Linked DNA regions of Homo sapiens. The protein of the gene in region 1 interacts with the protein of each later gene in a pairwise test. Each region holds a gene or a part of one and is shown on either strand. Other genes may lie near its edges. The genes, in order: SPATA7, NPHP1 and PTF1A.

Evidence for each region.
Region 2: the proteins of SPATA7 (region 1) and NPHP1 interact in a protein complementation assay, tested with the Homo sapiens proteins (one study listed by IntAct).
Region 3: the proteins of SPATA7 (region 1) and PTF1A interact in a two-hybrid assay, tested with the Homo sapiens proteins (one study listed by BioGRID).

What each region holds. Positions count from the first base shown.
Region 1 is NC_000014.9:88,388,587-88,392,337, reverse strand, and holds part of SPATA7 (spermatogenesis-associated protein 7), read right to left. Parts: intron 958-3,751; coding exon 883-957; intron 1-882. UniProt on the Homo sapiens protein: Involved in the maintenance of both rod and cone photoreceptor cells.
Region 2 is NC_000002.12:110,198,316-110,202,066, forward strand, and holds part of NPHP1 (nephrocystin-1), read right to left. Parts: intron 3,180-3,751; coding exon 3,106-3,179; intron 1-3,105. UniProt on the Homo sapiens protein: Together with BCAR1 it may play a role in the control of epithelial cell polarity. Involved in the organization of apical junctions in kidney cells together with NPHP4 and RPGRIP1L/NPHP8. Does not seem to be strictly required for ciliogenesis.
Region 3 is NC_000010.11:23,190,608-23,194,358, reverse strand, and holds PTF1A (pancreas transcription factor 1 subunit alpha), read right to left. Parts: upstream 2,048-3,751; 5' UTR 1,829-2,047; coding exon 1,045-1,828; intron 656-1,044; coding exon 453-655; 3' UTR 114-452; downstream 1-113. UniProt on the Homo sapiens protein: Transcription factor implicated in the cell fate determination in various organs. Binds to the E-box consensus sequence 5'-CANNTG-3'. Plays a role in early and late pancreas development and differentiation.

The DNA.
Region 1 (3,751 bases):
TTAAAACCACCATACCTATACCAGCTCTATATATATATTCTTTAAAAGAAAGTTAGCAAACTTTACATATTGTTCTTTATCCTGATTTCTATGTATGTATATTTTAAATCTAGTTTTAACTTTTTATTTAAAATTTAGTTTTTAAAGTTTATCATTATGGCTATGTTACATACATATATATGTTACATACATACATAGCCACAATCATAAACTTTAAAAAATACACTGTAATACAAAGAAATAAGTGAGGCAACTGAAAATGAGATCCTTCCACCACATTTGGAGGTAACAGTATCAAAGATTTTTCCTGTAAATAAGGAAAATAAGGCTTTAATTATTTTGCCTAAGGACATAGACTTATACTTCTAAGGTATAATTACAAAAATTTATTTTAAAACCTACCTTAAAAATGTACCTTGAAAGCTTTAAAATATAAAAATATCACAGCACCTAGAAATCCAGTTGGATAAAGAGGCCCATAGGCCTTTGCTCCTAATAGGAAATGTATTATTCAAGTGCTCTTTTTCTCTGCACAGCTTTTCCTTTTCAGTGCTTGCGTCTTTAATACCTGCTACTCACCATTTTAACAAGGCAGGTATGCCTTAAATCAGGGTAGTTTCCTGGCAAAAGTAGAGCTGGGCTGCTGTAGCAGCTGGGAGCAGGAGACAGCCAAGTCCACATCCAGGGCACAATAATAGTTTGAAATCATAGACTCCAAAATTCTCTAATCTCAAGAACGCCTATATTTCATTAAAATTAATAATATGAAGTTCAAATATTCGTCAAATGAAACAATTTTTCCATCATGTCATATAATTTGCCAGTAAAGGAAACACTCAGACAATCTTCTAACAAAGCTGCCGTTTTAAGCACCTCACTTACCATTACTTTTGGTGCTCAAGTGTCCTTTAAATAGGCACGGTGGACCATATCTGGGAAGGACAGAGGTTGCTCTGACTTTTAACAAGAAAAAAAAATCATAAATTAGGATAAATGAAACACAACTTTTACAAAAACAACAATATTCAATATTTTTTAAATAATAAATTTATCACAAAATAATTTCTTTCCTAAAAGGTGATTGCGTTTTTAGTAGTAATCTCCAAAACAGGAAGTCTGAGTTACAGCATTAAATGTAATTTAATATGCAAAATATAAATGCTTTATCCCCCAAACAGAGATGTTTTAAGAGGGTAAGATGGCTAGTTTGCTATCAGGTGGGCTGTTAAAAGCTATAACAAGGAGGACACATAGAAAGTCTAGAAGATATATGGATGACTAAATATAGAAAAAAGAAGTATCGAGCTAGGAGAACTAAAATCTAAGACCAGAGAACAAAGCTTGTCAGAATAGATTAAAACAGAAAAACAAACTGAGGTCAGAATATCTATGAAGCTCTTTCTATGTCACAGGTCAGAGTGCAGGAAGGAAAAAAATATTTAGGACAATACAAGTCAAGGTGATGCCATCTGAACTGGGAAAAAAGATAGTCATGAAATGAGCATAGCTTCTACCAAGAAAGAAGGAGGGTAAGACCTAAACATAAGAAAAAATACCAACAAACTCTCAGAAAAACCTCATTTCTCCAGATAGAAAGAACTGTGACTTTTTTCTTGTCCAGAATTCAATGCCTCTTCACCTGGAAATGACAACTCAACTTTCCTTTGGGCGACTCTTCCCTTACTCTTAGCCCAGGTGGTTCAAATAGAGCTGACCCCACTGTCAGGGTTAGGCATAAAACCCAAATGTGGACAGCTGTGTTGACAGCGTCAGCAATGCTATGCGATCCAAGTCCCAACATGAGATACACAATCCTGGGCCTTTGACAGGAACTATTAGGAAAGGTACTTTCATTTCACTGGGCTTGCTAAACCCAGTGAAGGGTCTAAGCAAGCCCTGTATTGCTGGTGGCCATCCTGAACCTTATAAAGGAACCTGTCTGAGAATGAAGCCTACACAGTCAAGTGGAACCAAGATAGAAAGCGATTTCTTGGTGACATCATTTGAGTACCTGAGGCCAACCATGTTTGAAGCTCTTCCTTCCCTAGACGTTTCTTTACATTAGCCAAAAAAAAAAAAAAATTCCCATTTTAGCTTAAACCAGTATGAGTTGATTTCTTCATTTGTAGTCAAAAGGCTAATTTATTGAGTGGTAACCCTGCCAGGCAGTGCTCCAAGCACTTTGCTGGTATAAATTCATTTAATCCTTACAATACTATAATTCTCCCTACTTTATAGATGAGGGTAATTGAAGCACAGAGGTTAAACTTGTAATTTGCCAAAGATTACACAAGAATGTGACAGATTTGGGATCTGAACCCAAGCAGTCTGTTTCCTGGGTCTTAATCATTACACTATCTTGACCAATATAAACTGCTCAGTACTTGAACCATGTTCTAAGCTACTAAATCATGTGAAACAGACCAAGAAGATATCTCAGCTGTATGTAGTTTATTCCCTCCAAATTCCATTCTATTCTATGTATGTTTCACTATAGGTCACAGAAAAAGGAAAAACAGGTATACCCAGAGAAGTGTGAAAGGATGAAAAGAGAATGAAAAAAGGCTGGAACCTAGTGATAATGCTCTGGATAGAAATGCTTCCCCACCCATCTGTAAGTGACAGCTGTGAACAAGGTGGTTAATATTTGGCCCCAGGAATCAATCCAGCTGCTCTTTAGCATAAGATGGTGATAAGAACAAACATGGAATTTAGATGTTCCTTGATGTCTATGTTCCCTTGTCTATTTACCATCAGACGTACACCAAGGCATATACTCATTGGTTTCTAATATTCCTATAGATACATGTCATATTAAAAATGACAGAATTAGGGCTGAGCACAATGGCTCGTGCTTGTAATCCCAGCACTTTGGGAGACTGAGGCAGGCTGATCACCTAAGCCCAGAAGTTCAAAGACCAGCCTGGACAACATGGCGAAACTCTAACTGCACAAAAAAATACAAAATTAGCTGGGTGTGGTGGTGTGTGCCTGTAGTCCCAGCTACACAGGAGGCTGAGATGGGAGGATGATTGAGCCCAGGAGGCTGCAATGCACTCCAGTCTGGGTAACAGAATAAGACCCTGTCTCGAAAAAAGAAAAAAGAAAGAGAAAGGAAAAAAAAAAACCTAACAGAATTGAGGGGAGAAATAAGACGATTTAATTCATCTACCCTCTCATAGTTTCTGGTTCCTCCTTTGTGTCCTGTGTATAGGTCACATTTTCCTGTTTTTTTGTTTTTGTTTTTTTGCATGACTTGCAATTTCTTTTTGTTGAAAAGTTAACATTTTAGGTAATATATTGCAGCAACTCTAGATACAGAATCCTCTCCTGAGCTTGTTTTCATTGTTGTTCACTTGTTTGTTTAGTGACTTGGCTAAGCAATTTATCAAAGTCTATTTCCCATGGAATGTGAAGCCTCCGATATCACTCCTCGGTGATGAAGCTTTGGGCAAGTGCACAATCACGCCTTCTCTAATGAGGTCTGAACCCCAGTCTTTGGGAGAAACTCTCTTTCAAATTGTCCTTCTTTGAGTACTTTCCCGTAATTCTAGGTACCAAATACAGTTTTCTTATCTTTTTAATTAATTCATTAATTTGTTTTATATACTAGAGACAGGGTCTTGCTATGTTACCCAGGCTGATTACAAACCACTGACCTCAAGTGATGCTCCTGCCTCAGCCTCCTAAAATGCTGAGATTACAGGCATGAGCTGACACGCCCAGCCCCTTACATCTTATAGTTACTCTT
Region 2 (3,751 bases), on another chromosome or scaffold:
GCACAGTGGCTGGGGTTTACTTTATAAATTATCTAATATTATTGTGTTATATTGTGTAAATTAAATCATATGCATACATCTAAGCTTTGAGGAGGGAAATCAATGTTAAAGCAATCTAAGGTCTTTATATTAGTCAAGGGAAGATTAATGATACTGATTACGTTTAGATTTAGTTGGGGTTCTTTCTTTTAAAAGTCTATTTACAGAAAACCTGAGCCAGTTAGCTCCCTTTTCCCCTCTCTGCTCTCCCTCCTTACCAGGGGATTCTTCCCTAAAAACAAAAAAACAAACAAAAACAATTAACAAACGACCTGAAGAGAATCATGACTGCTAAAGAAGTTTCCCATACACCAGGGTTAGAGCCGGCCCTATTCTGGCACTGGGGGATCCTCAGACTAAAAGCTACTTCCGAGCCTCTGATAAGCCCTATCAACATACAAAATTTCATTCTTATTCAGGGGATGGTACTAGCAGGAAGGACCCCTCTCTATCTAACAGTAGAAAAGCCCATGAGAGCTCTCTGGAATAATCAACCTAGTCCCTCATTGTTCAATAAAAATAGATAAGCCAGACCTAATAAAGAAAACCGGCAACGTGAAGATAAAATTTAAGAATAACCAAATATAAATTAATTAATTAACTAATTAAAAGGAATCTGAGCCCAGAGAAAGCAAAGACAATTCAGAGAACAGAAGAGAACTTAAGGAGAAAAAAAAAGCCTCCTAGTCATGGAAGTAGTAAGAAGGCAATCAATATGAAAACAGGAACATGATGCTATGAAAAAAGAACAATTCGAGAACAAGAGAAAACACTTGTAAATTAACAACATGACTGATGATGGCCAGGCACGGTGGCTCACGTAATCCCAGCACTTTGGGAGGCCATGATGGGTGGATCACCTGAAGTCGGGAGTTTGAGAGCAGCCTGGCCAACATGGTGAAACTCCGTCTCTACTAAAAATACAAAAAATTAGCCGAGTGTGATGGCGTGAGCCTGTAATCCCAGCTACTCAGAAGGCTAAGGCAGGAGAATCGCTTGAACCCAGGAGGCAGAGGTTGCAGTGAGCCAAGATCATGACAGAGTGAGACTCCATCTTAAAAAAAAAAAAACCAATATGACTGCTGAAATAAAACAATATGGCTGTTGAAATAGGTAATAAAGAAAAGTGTTAAAGTCAAGAGAATTGCTAGCATGGTAGCTCGTGGCGGGGGAGGGGGGCATCCCTTGAGCCTGGGAGGCAGAAGGTGCAGTGAGCCATGATTGTGCCACTTCATTACAGCCTGAACGACAGAGTGAGACCCCCCACATCCCCCCAAAAAAACATCTCCCATACAAACAAAGAAACAGAAACTATTAACAGGAAGTTATGGGATATAGAGGATCAGTCCAGGATATCCAATACCTGACTCAAAGGTGTTTCAGGAAGAAACAGACAAATGGAATTAACGAAATAATCTTTTTGTAAAATAAAATCTCCCAGAGCTCATGAGACATGAGTTTTCAAACTGAAAAGACTCAGAGCACTGAGCAGATAAAAATGATACCTAAATGACATTTTCAGATATGCAAATGTCAAAGTGAGTTTTTAAATGACAGTAACAATCTTCTTTTCATGCACAGAGAAGACTATGGTTACTTGGGCTTAAAAATAATTATTAGGGGCCGGGCGCGGTGGCTCACGCCTATAATCCCAGCACTTTGGGAGGCCAAAGCAGGGGGCATGAGGTCAGGAGATTGAGACCATCCTGGCTAGCACGGTGAAACCCCATCTCTACTAAAAATACAAAAAATTAGCCAGGCATGGTGGCGGGCACCTGTAATCCCAGCTACTCGGGAGGCTGAGGCAGGAGAATCGCTTGAACCTGGGAGGTGGAGCTTGCAGTGAGCCGAGATCATGCCACTGCACTCCAGCCTGGGCGACAGAGAGAGACTCTATCTCAAAAAAAATAAAACATAACAATTATTAGGCTGGGCACAGTGGCTCACACCTATAATCCCAGCACTTTGGGAGGCCAAGGCTGGGGGATCCCTTGAGGTCAGGAGTTCGAAACCAGCCTGGCCAACGTGATGAAACCCATCTCTACTCAAAATACAAAATCCAGCCAGGTGTGGTGGGGCACGACTGTAATCCCAACTACTCAAGAGCCTGAGGCAGAAGAATCGCTTGAACCTGGGAGGTGCAGGTTGCAATGAGCCGAGATTGCGCCACTGCACTCCAGCCTGGGTGACAGAGTGAGATTTAGTCTCAAAAAATAAAATAATAATAATTATGATTTTTAGTTTACTAACATAAAATTTAAAAACGTAGTTTTCCCTTGGCCTTCAAATTCAGTCTATAAATCTTACTCTGTTTTTAAATCTAGTAAAGCAAGAACAATAACCTTTGCTTTTCTTTCATTACTGTTAATTCAGCTTGAACTAAATCCCTTAATCAATCCTACTATTATAAATTAAATTCATTTGACATTTCAAAATTCATTTGTTTTGCCTTTAAGCACTCTGAATGCCTGACTTAAGTAAAACTTCTCCAAACAATTACAATTCACTTAAATTAATAGAATGAATCTCATGTTCTTTGGAATGTAATAAAATCCTTAAATATCTCAAAAACAAAGATTATCTTAATGATGTCCTAAACTTAATACAAATGTTATGAATTAATAGTCTAAATTTGATGTAGTTCATCACGTCTATTTAAACTCTCCCAAGGATTTTTTTTTAAGTAAAAACAAATACAAAACAAAAAACACCCACCTAGAAAACAGTGTTGTCTTCTCATGGGAGTTAAAGTTGACATCCCAATGAAGTACTAATTGCTTATAGACAGAGGTTTCTGACCAGGTCACAGGATCTGGGCTACATAGGCTAAGGATTTAGGGTAATCCTGCCCATGTCACCTATGTTTACATTAAGCAGTTTTTATAGTTGCTGTCACAACAGCAAGTCCGCAACCATCAGGTTTAGGTTGGTTTCTTCTACATTCAACTTACAACACTATGTGATTCTTCCATTTGATTCCAAAGGACCAATCTCTATGCCTTAAATACTATGCATTGAAATGTAAGTGCGGTTCCTGTAAAGCTTATATAATTTAGCATACTTTACCTTTGATAAATATGTTGTCTTTTATTGGGTTCTAGAGCTTCTTTCAGTTGGCTCTCAGAAAGCAAACTATCAACCTATGGAGACCATTTAAAATATCACATTATTAAATACCATATCGCCTTAGGAAAGAAAACTTCTTTTTTTATCCAATATTTTATAATGAACACTTTTAAACATACAACAAAGTTTTAAAAATTTTACAGTGAAAACCCATATACCCGCTACCTAGAAAAAACATTAACATTATACTATACTTATTTGATCTATCCGTCAACCCACCTTATGCCTTTCAAAGTAAGTTGCAGTTATCAATACATTTCTCCCTAAATAATGGACTATGGATGTCACTAACTAAAGTTCAATAGTTGATGTAAAATATGTATATAGTGAAATGCACAAATACGAGGCATACATTTGCTGAGTTTCGACAAATGCATACATCTGTGTAACCAAAATTCTTATCAAGATGTAGAAAACTACCATCACCCTAGTAAGTTCCCTCATGCCCTTGCCAGTAAATCCCCTCCTTATTCCTCCACAGACAAACCTGTTTTGATATTTTTCCAACATAAATTAGTTTTGCCTGTTCTTGAAATTTTATATAAATGGACTCATACAGTAAGCACTCTTGTGTAACCTTTCCACA
Region 3 (3,751 bases), on another chromosome or scaffold:
ATGTAGTTTCTTACTAAAAAGCTACACTTTGAGTCTCTGGTTTGGTTAATTTTTACTAAGTTAATTCTTTTTAAAGAGTATCTATCAAATCATGTACTCAAAAACCTTCAGGAAAAGGTGTAAATAGCATTTATTGACAACGCTTAGAAATAAACCATATCTGGCAATAAATAAGCAGGACGTTTTCTGGCCAGAGTTCTCCCAACAACACAGAGTTCAGGAAAATCATAGGCTATTGCATATTTTCAGAAAATCAGGATAAGTTATATAAATTATATATTTAAAAAGAAATCATCTATTTCATCAACTCAACAGGATAATAAATAGATAAATAATAAACAGTTGATTGCCATTCGAAAAATTTGATTCTTAAATTACATTTACATTATAGATATTTACATGTACAATATGCACAGAGACATAATCAGATCTTCAGCCGAGTCTGGGACTTCTCAGGACACAAACTCAAATGGTGGTTCGTTTTCTATGTTGTTGAAGGAAGATTTGCTGTTGAGTTTTCTGGGGTCCTCTGGGGTCCAGACTTTGGCTGTTCGGATAATATTTTGTTCCTTGAGTTGTTTTTCATCAGTCCATGAGAGAGAGTGTCCTGCTAGGGGAGGGAGGCCATAATCAGGGTCGCTGGGGGAGGGGGACCCTGGACAGGTGAGAAGAGAAAACAGACTGTGAATATCCAACCACATTCCCATTGGTCCCATCAGGTCCTTTAGGACCCTTTCCTGGGTGCTCTCCGGTTATACTAGAACCACCCTCTTCCTCCACACTTCAAGTCCCCACCGTCCCCTCCCAGGAATCCGAGGAGCTGCAAGTCTGGCGGGGACGCGCGCCCTTGAGAGCCGCGGTCAACGTGGCAGAAAAATAAAAAAAAAAAAAAAAACGAGAAACGCGAGCTCGCATTCAAGTTTTTCCGTGCCCACCGACAATCCGTCGGTCCGACTGTCTGCTTGGCAGTCAGCTCCCCCAGCCCCTCCGGAGCCTTCGAGTGCCCGACCCCTTCTCCCTGAGCTGGGAAGCGGAAGCACTTACGGGTGCCCCGATGGCAGATGATGACCTTCTGGGCCTGGCTGCCCGGGCTGTCCCCGCCCAGGCGCCCGCCGCCGCCCGGCCCCCCGCAGCCGCCCGCGCCACCGCCGCGCAAGGGCAGGTCGGCCTGCACGAGCTCGCTGAGGAAGTTGATGTAGCCGATGGCCAGGCGCAGCGTGTCCACCTTGGAGAGGCGCTTCTCGTAGGGCAGCGTGGGGATGTGCGAGCGCAGCCCCTCGAAGGCGTCGTTGATGGACTGCATGCGCCGCCGCTCGCGCACGTTGGCCGCCTGCCGCAGCTGCTGCAGCTCCGCCTCGGAGCGCACCCGCCGCCGGCGCCGCGCCGCCGCAGCCGCCGCTCCGCTCAGGCCGCGCAGCCGCGCCCCGGGAGACAGTACTGCCGCCCCGGCGCACGGGTAGGCCAGGCACGAGGGCGGCGAGCCGGGCGAGTAGGGGAAGCCGCCTGGGGGCGCCCCCGTCTCGCAGCAGTAGCCGCCGCCGCCGCCGTCGTCTGGCTCACCGAGGCCCCCCGAGGACGGCGGGGCGAGCGCTAGCGGGGCGGCCGGGGGCGCGGGCTGCAGCAGCAGGCACGCCCCGTCGCGGTAGCAGTACTCGTGGAGCTGGTGGCTAAGGAACTCCACCTCGGCCTGCTCGTCCGCCAGCAGCTCATCGCCGTCCTCCAGGGGGTCCCGTGAAGACTGGTCGGTGAAGAAGTCGTCCTCGTCGAAGTACGAAGAAGGAAAGGCGTCTAGGCCCCCGGGGAAGTGCTCCAGCAACACCGCGTCCATGCTCGCCGCCGCAGTGGGCAGCGGGACTGCCGGGCTGCGCGTGTTAGTTCTTGGTGAGTTTCTAAGGCCCGTCCGAGCCCCTCCCTCCCGGGGCCCTGGCTGGGGGCAGCTAGGCGGCCGCCGGGCTGCCCGCCCCCGGGCCTCCCTGGAGTGCCCGCGGCCGCTGCGCTCTGGCCCGCGCTCGCGCTGCGCTGGGGAGGGCTGTGGCGGACTTCCTGGAGCTGAGGGCCGGCACGCGAGGATTCTTATAACAACATCCATAGGCGCGTGCCAGGGACCCATCGCGCCAGCCAATCAGAGCGCGGTGTGCCGGCGGCGAGGGGGCCCGGAGGCGCGGCGGTGGGCGGGGGTGGGGGGCGTTTTGCTCCCTTTGGGAGCTCCTGGGGCGAGGAAAAGGCGGGGTCGCGCGGCCCGGGGCTCCTCGCACCGCTCTCTTCCCTCTCCTCTGCCTCTGCATACTGGATTCTGTACCTGCCCCGCGTGCGGCTCCAGGGGCACCTGCGTCCCGCGGTGCCCGCTGCGTACCCGCGCGCGCTGAGCAGCGCCGGCTCCTTCCGCCCTGGGACTGGGGCAGCCGCGCGCCGCGTCTACACGCGGCCAGAGAAGTTCCTAGGGGTGCGCGCCGGTGGCCCAGACGGCGAGAGCGGAGCCCGCGCGGCGATCGTCCTCCTCCGCGGCAGCCTGGGCAATCTAAGGGTGCTGCCCTCAGGGACCAGGTGGGTGCATTCCGCCACCCCCTTATCCGAGGTGCGCGGGGCTCCGGCCTGGGTTCTGCTGGGGGCTTCTGTCCCATCTCTGGACTTTTCAAGGGCTTTTGCACAGTTTGCAGAGTATATGCGGGTGTCATTGGAAGGTGATCCGGGCCCACTCCCACTGCGTTCCAGACGCAACACGGGGGCTGGGAGCGCACCTATGGGACTCCGCTCTGGAGCCTGGCTGTGGTGCCTGGTGCGGGTCCCCAGCGACATCGGCTCAGTGGCTGCCTCCCCTGCCCTCCCCGGCCCGGAGAAAGGAATGGGGAGACGGGAGGGGCAGCCCCCAGAGCAGCTCAGCGGGGCGCGTTTCTTCTGAGAGCAAATCTAGACCCTAGGGATTCTGAGCAATAAACTGGATACAAAAGGAGTCCATTGAATCGTCTGCTCCGGCGCAGTCCGGAGGGAAGGCATTGAAGTTAAAGGGCAGAATGTGAATCGTTTTCAAAGCCCGAGTCTCTCACCTTTCCGACTGGCCACAGGGACCATCCCTGAATGACTTGTTTTTTTCTTTCTCGACCTTTCTTTTCTGAAAAAAAAAAAAAACACAAAACGTATGCAGCTCTGCCCCAAGACAGACTTTATCACAGACTGCGATGCAACGTGAATTCCTCTTTTTAAGAGCAACAAAGAAACACTTTCAAGGTCTGGGCAATTCCGGTTAAAAGCCAGGCTGCAGCTTCCACCCCGGGAGAGTTCAGAAGCGCAGCCATCGTGCGTATTCTCTCTACAGAGGACTGAAAGGAGTCGTCCTCCTGGGCCGCTTCCTTTTTCAGGCACTTGTCTCACTAGAGGCTTCTGTTGGGTATTCAGACGCCTCTCAAATTCCAAGTCATGCCTCTTCAGATTAGTGATTTAAATACGCTTCTTGGTTTTAGACATTGCACTGTAATTAACTGAATTGAGAACAAAGAGTTAAACCAAAAGATATATAAGGTTAGAAGGCCAGAGATTGCCTTACCTTGAACTGCCAACAACCCCAAACAATTTTAACCCAAGGACTGACTGGTTTTCAGTAGTTTTTTCCTGTGTTAGTTTCTCAGCCTTCACAGTGAAGGAGTCGTTCACTATTTGCATATCCTTAAAGGCAAATATGGACAGTTTCCCGGTGATAGAGCCTGAGCTGTGATTCTCTGCAATTAGATTTCTCTTTCTGACCTCAAAGGAAGGG